2 separate regions of the Homo sapiens genome follow, and region 2 is linked to region 1. A link means that fine-mapping ties the variant in region 1 to the expression of a gene that starts in the linked region. Tissue or cell type: whole blood. Region 1 holds a variant in brackets; the other region holds the start of a gene. All regions are shown on one strand. Distances are between the middles of the regions.

Region 1 (5,198 bases):
CCCTTGGCACACACTGGGGTGGCTGTACCATGCCTGCAGATGCTCCCAAATAGAGGCACTCCAAGCACTTTGTTTCTTAGCGTGATTGAGGCTGGATATGTGATTTGATCTTTCTCTGGAACATTCTTTCTAATCATCTTTGTGTTCATTCCCTGAAAATGAAGAGTGTGGACACAGCTTTAAAATCCCCAAGGTAGCAACTAGGTCATAGTTCCTTACACACGGATAGATGAAAAACAGATCAGACTGGGAAGTGGCCCTTGACCTTTTTTCTTCTGTAGATAAGAGCATTGATGTTATTACGGGAAGAAGCCTTTGAGGCTTTTATGTATTCCACCTCGGTCTGGAATTTGTTTCTGTAAGGCTAACAGTTGCAATATACTAGGGTAATCTGAGTGAGCTGGAATTAAAAAAAAAAAGGAATTTCACCCCAATCTTATACTGACTTCAATAGAGGTTTCAGACAAAAAGTTGTTTTGTATATACTTATCAGTCATGAAAAGATAATTACAACTAAATGGCCTTTTTCCTTCCCTATTTATTTGGAGAAATTTAATTACATAAAAAAGTACTCAGAATATTTGAGTTTCCTGCATCAATAAGACATTTATAATAATGACCTTGTTTACAAATGAATTTGAAAGTTACTCTAATTCTTTGATTCATCAAGAAATAACTAGAATGGCAAGTTAAAATTTAAGCTGTTTCAAAGATGCTTCTGCATTTAAAAACAAATTTATCTTTGATTTTTTTTCCCCCCAGCAAATAAGACTTATTTTATTCTAATTACAGGATGAACCCACCACAGGCATGGATCCCAAAGCCCGGCGGTTCTTGTGGAATTGTGCCCTAAGTGTTGTCAAGGAGGGGAGATCAGTAGTGCTTACATCTCATAGGTCCGTAGTAAAGTCTTGGGTTCCTCACTGTGGGATGTTTTAACTTTCCAAGTAGAATATGCGATCATTTTGTAAAAATTAGAAAATACAGAAAAGCAAAGAGTAAAACAATTATTACCTGAAATTATATATGCATATTCTTACAAAAATGCAAGCCCAGTATAAATACTGCTCTTTTTCACTTAATATATTGTAAACATTATTCCAAGTCAGTGCATTTAGGTGTCATTTCTTATAGCTGGATAGTATTCCATTAGGATATACTCTTATTTAACTATTCCCCCTTTTGTAGACATTTGGATTATTTCCAACTTGTTCACAATTGTAAACACCACTACACTGAACAGCATCATCCCTATATCCACATGTACTTGTAACAGAATACAATTCCCTAGGAAGCTGGAATGCTGGAAGTCATGGTGATGTTCTCATGGTTACAGAGAATCTCTCTAAAACTAAAACCTCTTTCTGTTTTACCGCAGTATGGAAGAATGTGAAGCTCTTTGCACTAGGATGGCAATCATGGTCAATGGAAGGTTCAGGTGCCTTGGCAGTGTCCAGCATCTAAAAAATAGGTAATAAAGATAATTTCTTTGGGATAGTGCCTAGTGAGAAGGCTTGATATTTATTCTTTTGTGAGTATATAAATGGTGCCTCTAACATAAAGGGAAATAAAACTGAGCAAAACAGTATAGTGGAAAGAATGAGGGCTTTGAAGTCCGAACTGCATTCAAATTCTGTCTTTACCATTTACTGGTTCTGTGACTCTTGGGCAAGTGACTTAACTACTGTAAGAGTTAGTTTCCCTGGAAGATCTACCTCCTAGCTTTGTGCTATAGATGAAATGAAAAAAATTTACATGTGCCAGTACTGGTGAGAGCGCAAGCTTTGGAGTCAAACACAAATGGGTTTGCATCCTGGCCCTACCAATTATGAGCTCTGAGCCATGGGCAAGTGACTAACTCCCTGGGCCTCAGTTTCTCTGTAACATCTGTCAGACTTCATGGGTCCAGGTGAGGATTAAAGGAGATCATGTATTTACAGCACATGGCATGGTGCTTCACATAAAATAAGTATTTAGTAAATGATAACTGGTTCCTTCTCTCAGAAACTTATTTCTGGGCCTGCCAGGGGCCGCCCTTTTTCATGGCACAAGTTGGGTTCCCAGGGTTCAGTATTCTTTTAAATAGTTTTCTGGAGATCCTCCATTTGGGTATTTTTTCCTGCTTTCAGGTTTGGAGATGGTTATACAATAGTTGTACGAATAGCAGGGTCCAACCCGGACCTGAAGCCTGTCCAGGATTTCTTTGGACTTGCATTTCCTGGAAGTGTTCTAAAAGAGAAACACCGGAACATGCTACAATACCAGCTTCCATCTTCATTATCTTCTCTGGCCAGGATATTCAGCATCCTCTCCCAGAGCAAAAAGCGACTCCACATAGAAGACTACTCTGTTTCTCAGACAACACTTGACCAAGTAAGCTTTGAGTGTCAAAACAGATTTACTTCTCAGGGTGTGGATTCCTGCCCCGACACTCCCGCCCATAGGTCCAAGAGCAGTTTGTATCTTGAATTGGTGCTTGAATTCCTGATCTACTATTCCTAGCTATGCTTTTTACTAAACCTCTCTGAACCTGAAAAGGGAGATGATGCCTATGTACTCTATAGGATTATTGTGAGAATTTACTGTAATAATAACCATAAAAACTACCATTTAGTGAGCACCTACCATGGGCCAGGCATTTTACTTGGTGCCTAATCCTATTTAAATTAGATAAAAAAGTACCAAATAGGTCCTGACACTTAAGAAGTACTCAGTAAATATTTTCTTCCCTCTTCCCTTTAATCAAGACCGTATGTGCCAAAGTAAATGGATGACTGAGCAGTTGGTGATGTAGGGGTGGGGGGCGATATAGAAAGTCAGTTTTTGGCCGGGCGTGGTGGCTCATGCCTGTAATCCCAGCACTTTGGGAGGCTGAGGAGCAGGCAGATCATGAGGTCAGGAGATCCAGATAATCCTGGCCAACAGGGTGAAACCCCGTCTCTACTAAAAATACAAAAATTAGCTGGGCATGGTGGTGCGCACTTGTAGTCCCAGCTACTTGCGAGGCTGAGGCAGGAGAATTGCTCGAACCCAGGAGGTGGAGGTTACAGTGAGCCAAGGTCTCGCCACTGCACTCCAGCCTGGGGACAGAGCAAGACCCCATTTCAAGGGGGGAAAAAAAGTCTATTTTTAAGTTGTTATTGCTTTT[T/C]TCAAGTATTCTTCCCTCCTTCACACACAGTTTTCTAGTTAATCCATTTATGTAATTCTGTATGCTCCTACTTGACCTAATTTCAACATCTGGAAAAATAGAACTAGAATAAAGAATGAGCAAGTTGAGTGGTATTTATAAAGGTCCATCTTAATCTTTTAACAGGTATTTGTGAACTTTGCCAAGGACCAAAGTGATGATGACCACTTAAAAGACCTCTCATTACACAAAAACCAGACAGTAGTGGACGTTGCAGTTCTCACATCTTTTCTACAGGATGAGAAAGTGAAAGAAAGCTATGTATGAAGAATCCTGTTCATACGGGGTGGCTGAAAGTAAAGAGGAACTAGACTTTCCTTTGCACCATGTGAAGTGTTGTGGAGAAAAGAGCCAGAAGTTGATGTGGGAAGAAGTAAACTGGATACTGTACTGATACTATTCAATGCAATGCAATTCAATGCAATGAAAACAAAATTCCATTACAGGGGCAGTGCCTTTGTAGCCTATGTCTTGTATGGCTCTCAAGTGAAAGACTTGAATTTAGTTTTTTACCTATACCTATGTGAAACTCTATTATGGAACCCAATGGACATATGGGTTTGAACTCACACTTTTTTTTTTTTTTTTGTTCCTGTGTATTCTCATTGGGGTTGCAACAATAATTCATCAAGTAATCATGGCCAGCGATTATTGATCAAAATCAAAAGGTAATGCACATCCTCATTCACTAAGCCATGCCATGCCCAGGAGACTGGTTTCCCGGTGACACATCCATTGCTGGCAATGAGTGTGCCAGAGTTATTAGTGCCAAGTTTTTCAGAAAGTTTGAAGCACCATGGTGTGTCATGCTCACTTTTGTGAAAGCTGCTCTGCTCAGAGTCTATCAACATTGAATATCAGTTGACAGAATGGTGCCATGCGTGGCTAACATCCTGCTTTGATTCCCTCTGATAAGCTGTTCTGGTGGCAGTAACATGCAACAAAAATGTGGGTGTCTCCAGGCACGGGAAACTTGGTTCCATTGTTATATTGTCCTATGCTTCGAGCCATGGGTCTACAGGGTCATCCTTATGAGACTCTTAAATATACTTAGATCCTGGTAAGAGGCAAAGAATCAACAGCCAAACTGCTGGGGCTGCAAGCTGCTGAAGCCAGGGCATGGGATTAAAGAGATTGTGCGTTCAAACCTAGGGAAGCCTGTGCCCATTTGTCCTGACTGTCTGCTAACATGGTACACTGCATCTCAAGATGTTTATCTGACACAAGTGTATTATTTCTGGCTTTTTGAATTAATCTAGAAAATGAAAAGATGGAGTTGTATTTTGACAAAAATGTTTGTACTTTTTAATGTTATTTGGAATTTTAAGTTCTATCAGTGACTTCTGAATCCTTAGAATGGCCTCTTTGTAGAACCCTGTGGTATAGAGGAGTATGGCCACTGCCCCACTATTTTTATTTTCTTATGTAAGTTTGCATATCAGTCATGACTAGTGCCTAGAAAGCAATGTGATGGTCAGGATCTCATGACATTATATTTGAGTTTCTTTCAGATCATTTAGGATACTCTTAATCTCACTTCATCAATCAAATATTTTTTGAGTGTATGCTGTAGCTGAAAGAGTATGTACGTACGTATAAGACTAGAGAGATATTAAGTCTCAGTACACTTCCTGTGCCATGTTATTCAGCTCACTGGTTTACAAATATAGGTTGTCTTGTGGTTGTAGGAGCCCACTGTAACAATACTGGGCAGCCTTTTTTTTTTTTTTTTTAATTGCAACAATGCAAAAGCCAAGAAAGTATAAGGGTCACAAGTCTAAACAATGAATTCTTCAACAGGGAAAACAGCTAGCTTGAAAACTTGCTGAAAAACACAACTTGTGTTTATGGCATTTAGTACCTTCAAATAATTGGCTTTGCAGATATTGGATACCCCATTAAATCTGACAGTCTCAAATTTTTCATCTCTTCAATCACTAGTCAAGAAAAATATAAAAACAACAAATACTTCCATATGGAGCATTTTTCAGAGTTTTCTAACCCAGTCTTA
Region 2 (5,126 bases), 37 kb after region 1:
TGAGAAGACAGGATTCATTATATTGTGTTAAAACCTAATCTGAATCTGGTACAAGGGACACTCATAGACTCATTACTCATGTTTGTACTTCTGTTGTCAATTCTCAATATGTTACTGATGGAGGGTGTCCAGGTTCTTGGTGTTTGAACAAAGAACTGGACAAAATGCACAAAGCAAGGAAAGAATGAAGTAACAAAAGCAGAGATCTATTGAAAATGAAAGCACACTCCACAGGGTAGGAGTGGGCCTGAGCAAGTGGCTCAAGGGCCCTGGTTACAGAATTTTCTAGGGTTTCAGTACCCTCTAGAGGTGTCCCATTGGCTATGTGGTGTAAGCCGTATATAAATGAAGAGGATGAAGTAAAGTTGCAAAGTCATTTACTCTGTGTACACCCTATGTAAATGAAGAGGGTATTTCTTGTCATAGCTGAAGGGTTTGATTTAGTTCTAGGAAGTCCTTAGGTTCCCTGCCTCAAGACCCTATTCTCCTGCTTCACATATACATTTGTTTACATAGAGGTGTCAATAAAGACAACTACTCTTAAATATGCTGAGTGTGTAGTTACTGTTTCCTAGTGGGGGTTCACTGTCACCTTTAGCCACTTTTTCAGAAATTGCTCATAAGAAGGCGCTGAGATCTTAATGATACTTCTTTATCCAAGAACTACAATTAGGATTCTAACAAATTTACAAAAGTTTTCCTATTAGCCAATATTGCATCTTTAGTCAAGAGCATACGTGTTACAGTTATGCACATCAAAGAACTTTATTAACTACGCACGTAACTTTTGGCAGGCATAATGAAAAAAATGTTTACTAGAAGAAAACTCTTTTAGGTTCTTGAAAAAAATGGAAATTACAGTTCAGGTCAAAGTATTTCCTAATTCAATGAAGTAAACCACTGACCAAAATTAGGACTGGAATGTAACTAATGCAATAAAAAGCTCTGACCTATCCAATTGCATTGTAATATAATGGTAGAACATGAATGCTGAGAAAAGAAAATTCAGAGTCAAAATTTTCTTATTAGTTTCTAATTACAGATGCAATGTGAACAACATTTAATGAATCCACTTATACCACATTGATGAAAATATCACTTAAGAACCATTAATTCCTTTTGTAATAGTCATACACGCACTGTAAATTTCTAATTTGTGTTCTGGTTGAACTTTCTGTAAGAAATACCTCGCCTAAGATTATCCTCTATGTAGGTATCTATGTGTATATATGTATACACATACACACACACATACGCACACACACATATATATATGCACTCATGGTATACACACAGGCATTCGTGATATTCTTATAAATCCATCTTACTTAAGTTTGAATAGCATGTGCCATTTCCTTAAGTTGATTACACCAGAATAATCTGTGAAGACAGTTTTGATACCTACAAAGCTATGGACAAATTAGGGCTTATACTGACTAGCCAGTATGTCTGTCTGAAAGCAGTAGGCTTTTGCTCCGACATATTTTTGTTTACAAAATACAAAATTATGTAACTGTGTATGATAAGGCTTAATGATAATTATCTAGAGTTAATTCTATTCGTGTGTGACTTATATTCTTATTGCTCAAATGACTAAGCCTACCAACAAAAACAGCTGCAGCTGCCCCTGCCTTTTGTGGACACTCTTTTTGTGCTTTTAAACCAAACTCTAGTAACAATGTTGGTCAAGAAGCAAGTGCCTAGTATCCATAATTTCAAAATTATTATAATAAAATATATCAGGAGATAGGCCAATGGGGCATTTGTGACAAATGGATTTCAGGTTGATTCGAGGAATTTGTATTTGGAGGATAAAATAGTTGATCAAAGGTACACATTTTTACAATTTTGGGCAGTATTAATATACAGTAGGGAACCTACAGTGAGAGAGGGAGAGAGATGTGGACAGGTGGTGCCAGAGAAGGAAGACTGCAGGGGAGCCGGGTATGGTGGGGGAGCCGGATGGGAGTTAAGAATTTTGTTGCAGGGATGACTTTTAGCTGCTAGGGCAGAAATCATGAGTCGTCCATCCTCCCTTATCTCCAAGTTAGGGATCATTCCCACCAGCAACGACCTCCACTTCACTTAAAAGAGAACAACTGATGGACATTTCTAAAAACTTAAAGTTTGGAATCATGCCATAAGGACGTCATTCCTGGCCCTGCCCCACTGGAGAATCATTAGGGTAAAAACTGCATTGTTAACCCGGGGTGAATGGACATGAGCTGCTCTTCTTTAGTGCTCCTCAGTCTGTCTCTAGGACAGGTTAATCCCCTTCCCATCCTGCCCCTTCAGAAAGGAGTAAAGTCCTAAACATCAAAAGGAAAAGAAATTTCTAGGTTGAAGCCACAGAATAGGCCACTCCCGAAAGTTAGGGCAGAATCACAAGCTCCATTTTGTCCATTTCTCATCTAAGGTTAAAAGAGTCTGTCTGTCATCGTCCGGTTTGATAGGAGGCTCCGGTCCCGCCTGGTTGGGGGAGCGACCACACGAAGCGCGGGTGGCGGGCAGGGTCCAGCCCCACCGGGACCCTGGGCCTCCTCTTCAAGGGTCTCCGCGAAATGCTCGGAAGTTGTGTGCTTCATTTAAAAGGGGGAGGCCGGTTCCGTGGCAAGCGGCTGGTTGACAATTCCCTCCTTCAACCTGATGTCTAGAGAGGGCGGTGGCTTGGAAAGCTACGACTCCACCCGCGGCTCCACAGCGCCAGGTGACAACATGGGAGCGCTCGCTGGGCCGCAGCCGCGACATAGCTGGGCAGCAAAAACGAAACAGCCGGCGCCATGGGAGTGTCCCGGTGGGTGTGGCATCCAGGCTAGAAAAGCCTTCTGACCACCACTGCCCGCGAGACGACCCCGGCTGGGGGTATTCCCCTAGCAGCGGCCTCCTCCTCACGCGCGTTCCGGGTACCCCTGTCTTGGGGTTCCGGGGCTCACGCTAGAACCTCACCGGGGCCCCAGGTCTGGGCGCGCGTGGCGGAGAGCGCATGCGCATTGCTCGCACGTACCCGGAACACTCCCCGCCCCGCCCCTCCCCTCCCGTCGGGTGAAGGCTTGGGTACCCCCGTGGCCGGTACCTGAGGCGCCAGCGTCCGTGAGGCCAGCGCCCGAGTCAGGGCGCTTCTGAGGACGAGCATGGCGCGGCTTCGGCGCTGAGAAAAGCAGCCAGCCGTGTCCTTTCTGAGACTCCTCTGAAGGTTTCCCGAGTGGAAAGGAGCGGCTCCTGGATCATTGGCAGACGCAGGCTGGGGCGGGGCTCGGCGGGGTCAGCTCCACCCCGGCGCGGGAGGCGCGGCGGGTCCCGTAGCTTGGTGTCTTTCTCTGCTGTGCTGAGCGTTGGTTCCCCCTTGGTTTCCTGAAACGTTCTTACCCCAAACGTTAGAGGTGACGTTAGGATTAACTGAAGGCTCGGATCGTTCCTGCTTCAACTTTCTGGGCCCTCACTCACCTCATTCGCTCCAGTGCTCAGTTGTGTAGATTGGTAAATGTGCAGGGGTTGTGGGTGTGTTGACCATGGGGAAAGAAGGAGAGGTGTTGAGTGCGTGCATGTGCAGTGCTTTGTATTTAAAATCGTGGAGGTTTTTTCCGAGTTAAGTTTTAGATGTTGTGATAGACGTGTATTTGAGCCTGACCTCTCTGCAATGAATGTGTTCTCCATCTTAGAAGGCTCCTAATTAAGATTTAGATTAAATTTTCCACGAGCTCAGAGAAATGGCAGCATCGAGCCTGAAATGAAAAAGTCAAAGTTAAACATACCCTGGTCTAGTCCTCCCAGTCCGGGAGTGTTGGTTCCCAGAGTAACCACCTTCAACATTTCAAGCTGTTTCATTTAATGCTTGTTTCTGTATTTTTAAGTAAGTAGTGTTTTCTGCTGTTTATTGCATTTTCAGTTATGGATAGTATGTGTTGACTTCCTTCTGTGGCAGATGAGGATTTATGTCTCATAGATGCCACTGCCCCCAAATTCACTTGTCTTCCTGCATCTAATAATGCTTATGTTAATTTACAGTAATTAATTACACTATTAATTTACAGTAATCTATATTAATGTTTACATTATTCTTGCTAATAATTACATTATTGTAAACATTAATGTAATATTGCTTACATCATGAGGACTAGGGAGGGATTGCAGGGCCATGACCTGGGTTGTATTGGTTGTGCCTTGTGGAAGAGCTTTGGAATTGTCTGTTCAAAGGAAGGGAGACTTTTTAAAATTAGTTATTTCGGAAGGGTTGCCTCAGTTTTTCTAGAAGAGAGACATCTATTTGTAACCATGCAAGACTAAAAAAATCATTTGTATCAGGACTGGATCTATATGAGTAAATTATTTTCTTAGACCTTTTTTTTTAAACCCTGTAATTGCCAATCCATTTACTTATTCAACAGATATTTACTAAATTCCTTCCATGTTCCAGGCACTTTTCCAGAAACTGGGGTACAGAATTGAGCAAAATTCAAAGTCCCGTCCTCTTGGAACATCCAGGATGGAGGAAACAGATAAAAAAAGGAAGAGTAAATATATCAGGGATTGTCAAATAATATAAAGAAAAATAAAGTAAGATACGAATAAAGGTGCTAGTGGAATTCTAAAAGTGGTCAGGATTCTAGCTATTGACTTGGATATTTAGGATTTAGGTTTCTTCATACCACTCCCTCAAAATACACTTTCCTTCCTGCGTTTATTGATGTTTACATTAAAAATATATTTTGGAGTGAGAAAAACATGTTAAAAGCACTGTAAGCACAGGTGAATCTCTTCAAATAGTGGGCTTCACTGTGAGGTGATCTGACCTGGGTATTTCACTGAAGGCTGTATCCCCTCCCCCCAAACTGTTATCTGCAAGTTATTTATCTGTGTAGTCAGTGTTAGGGAAGGGAAACTTCCAGTATCTTATCTGTGTGAGAAAAGCCTTGCTGCCAGTTTCCTGAGGCTGAGGAGGGAAGAAGGCCAGAACACTCAGCATTTGGTAGTATCTTTCAATAATATATTAATTAGGGTAGATTAAATAGCTCTTGTAAATCAACACTCAAAAAAGTGTATTATTACTCAAACACTATAGGAGTTTATTTTTTATAAGAATACAAAGTGGGTTTTTCTAGTTGGCAGGTAGCTCTTCTATACTTAGT

Evidence for each region. PIP is the estimated chance that this variant, and not a neighbour inherited with it, causes the effect.
Region 2: it holds the start of NIPSNAP3A, and the variant in region 1 is fine-mapped to the expression of NIPSNAP3A in whole blood (TOPMed, PIP above 0.99).

Annotation. Positions count from the first base shown.
Region 1 is chr9:104,782,571-104,787,768 of GRCh38, reverse strand. ABCA1 (ATP binding cassette subfamily A member 1) reads left to right here. Exons shown (of 50, transcript NM_005502.4): 47 at 793-896; 48 at 1,379-1,471; 49 at 2,130-2,373; 50 at 3,314-5,198. The coding sequence ends at 3,454. It also overlaps a transcript of NIPSNAP3B not described here. Among named protein-coding and RNA genes, the nearest start is that of NIPSNAP3B, 21 kb to the right of the region's middle. The variant T/C (reference allele first, on the strand shown) is at 3,149.
Region 2 is chr9:104,745,800-104,750,925 of GRCh38, reverse strand. NIPSNAP3A (nipsnap homolog 3A) reads right to left here and starts at 3,243. Exons shown (of 6, transcript NM_015469.3): 1 at 3,074-3,243. The coding sequence starts at 3,133. LOC107987105 (a long non-coding RNA gene) reads left to right here and starts at 3,287. Exons shown (of 5, transcript XR_007061705.1): 1 at 3,287-3,477. RefSeq lists an enhancer at 2,680-2,839 and a silencer at 3,260-3,349.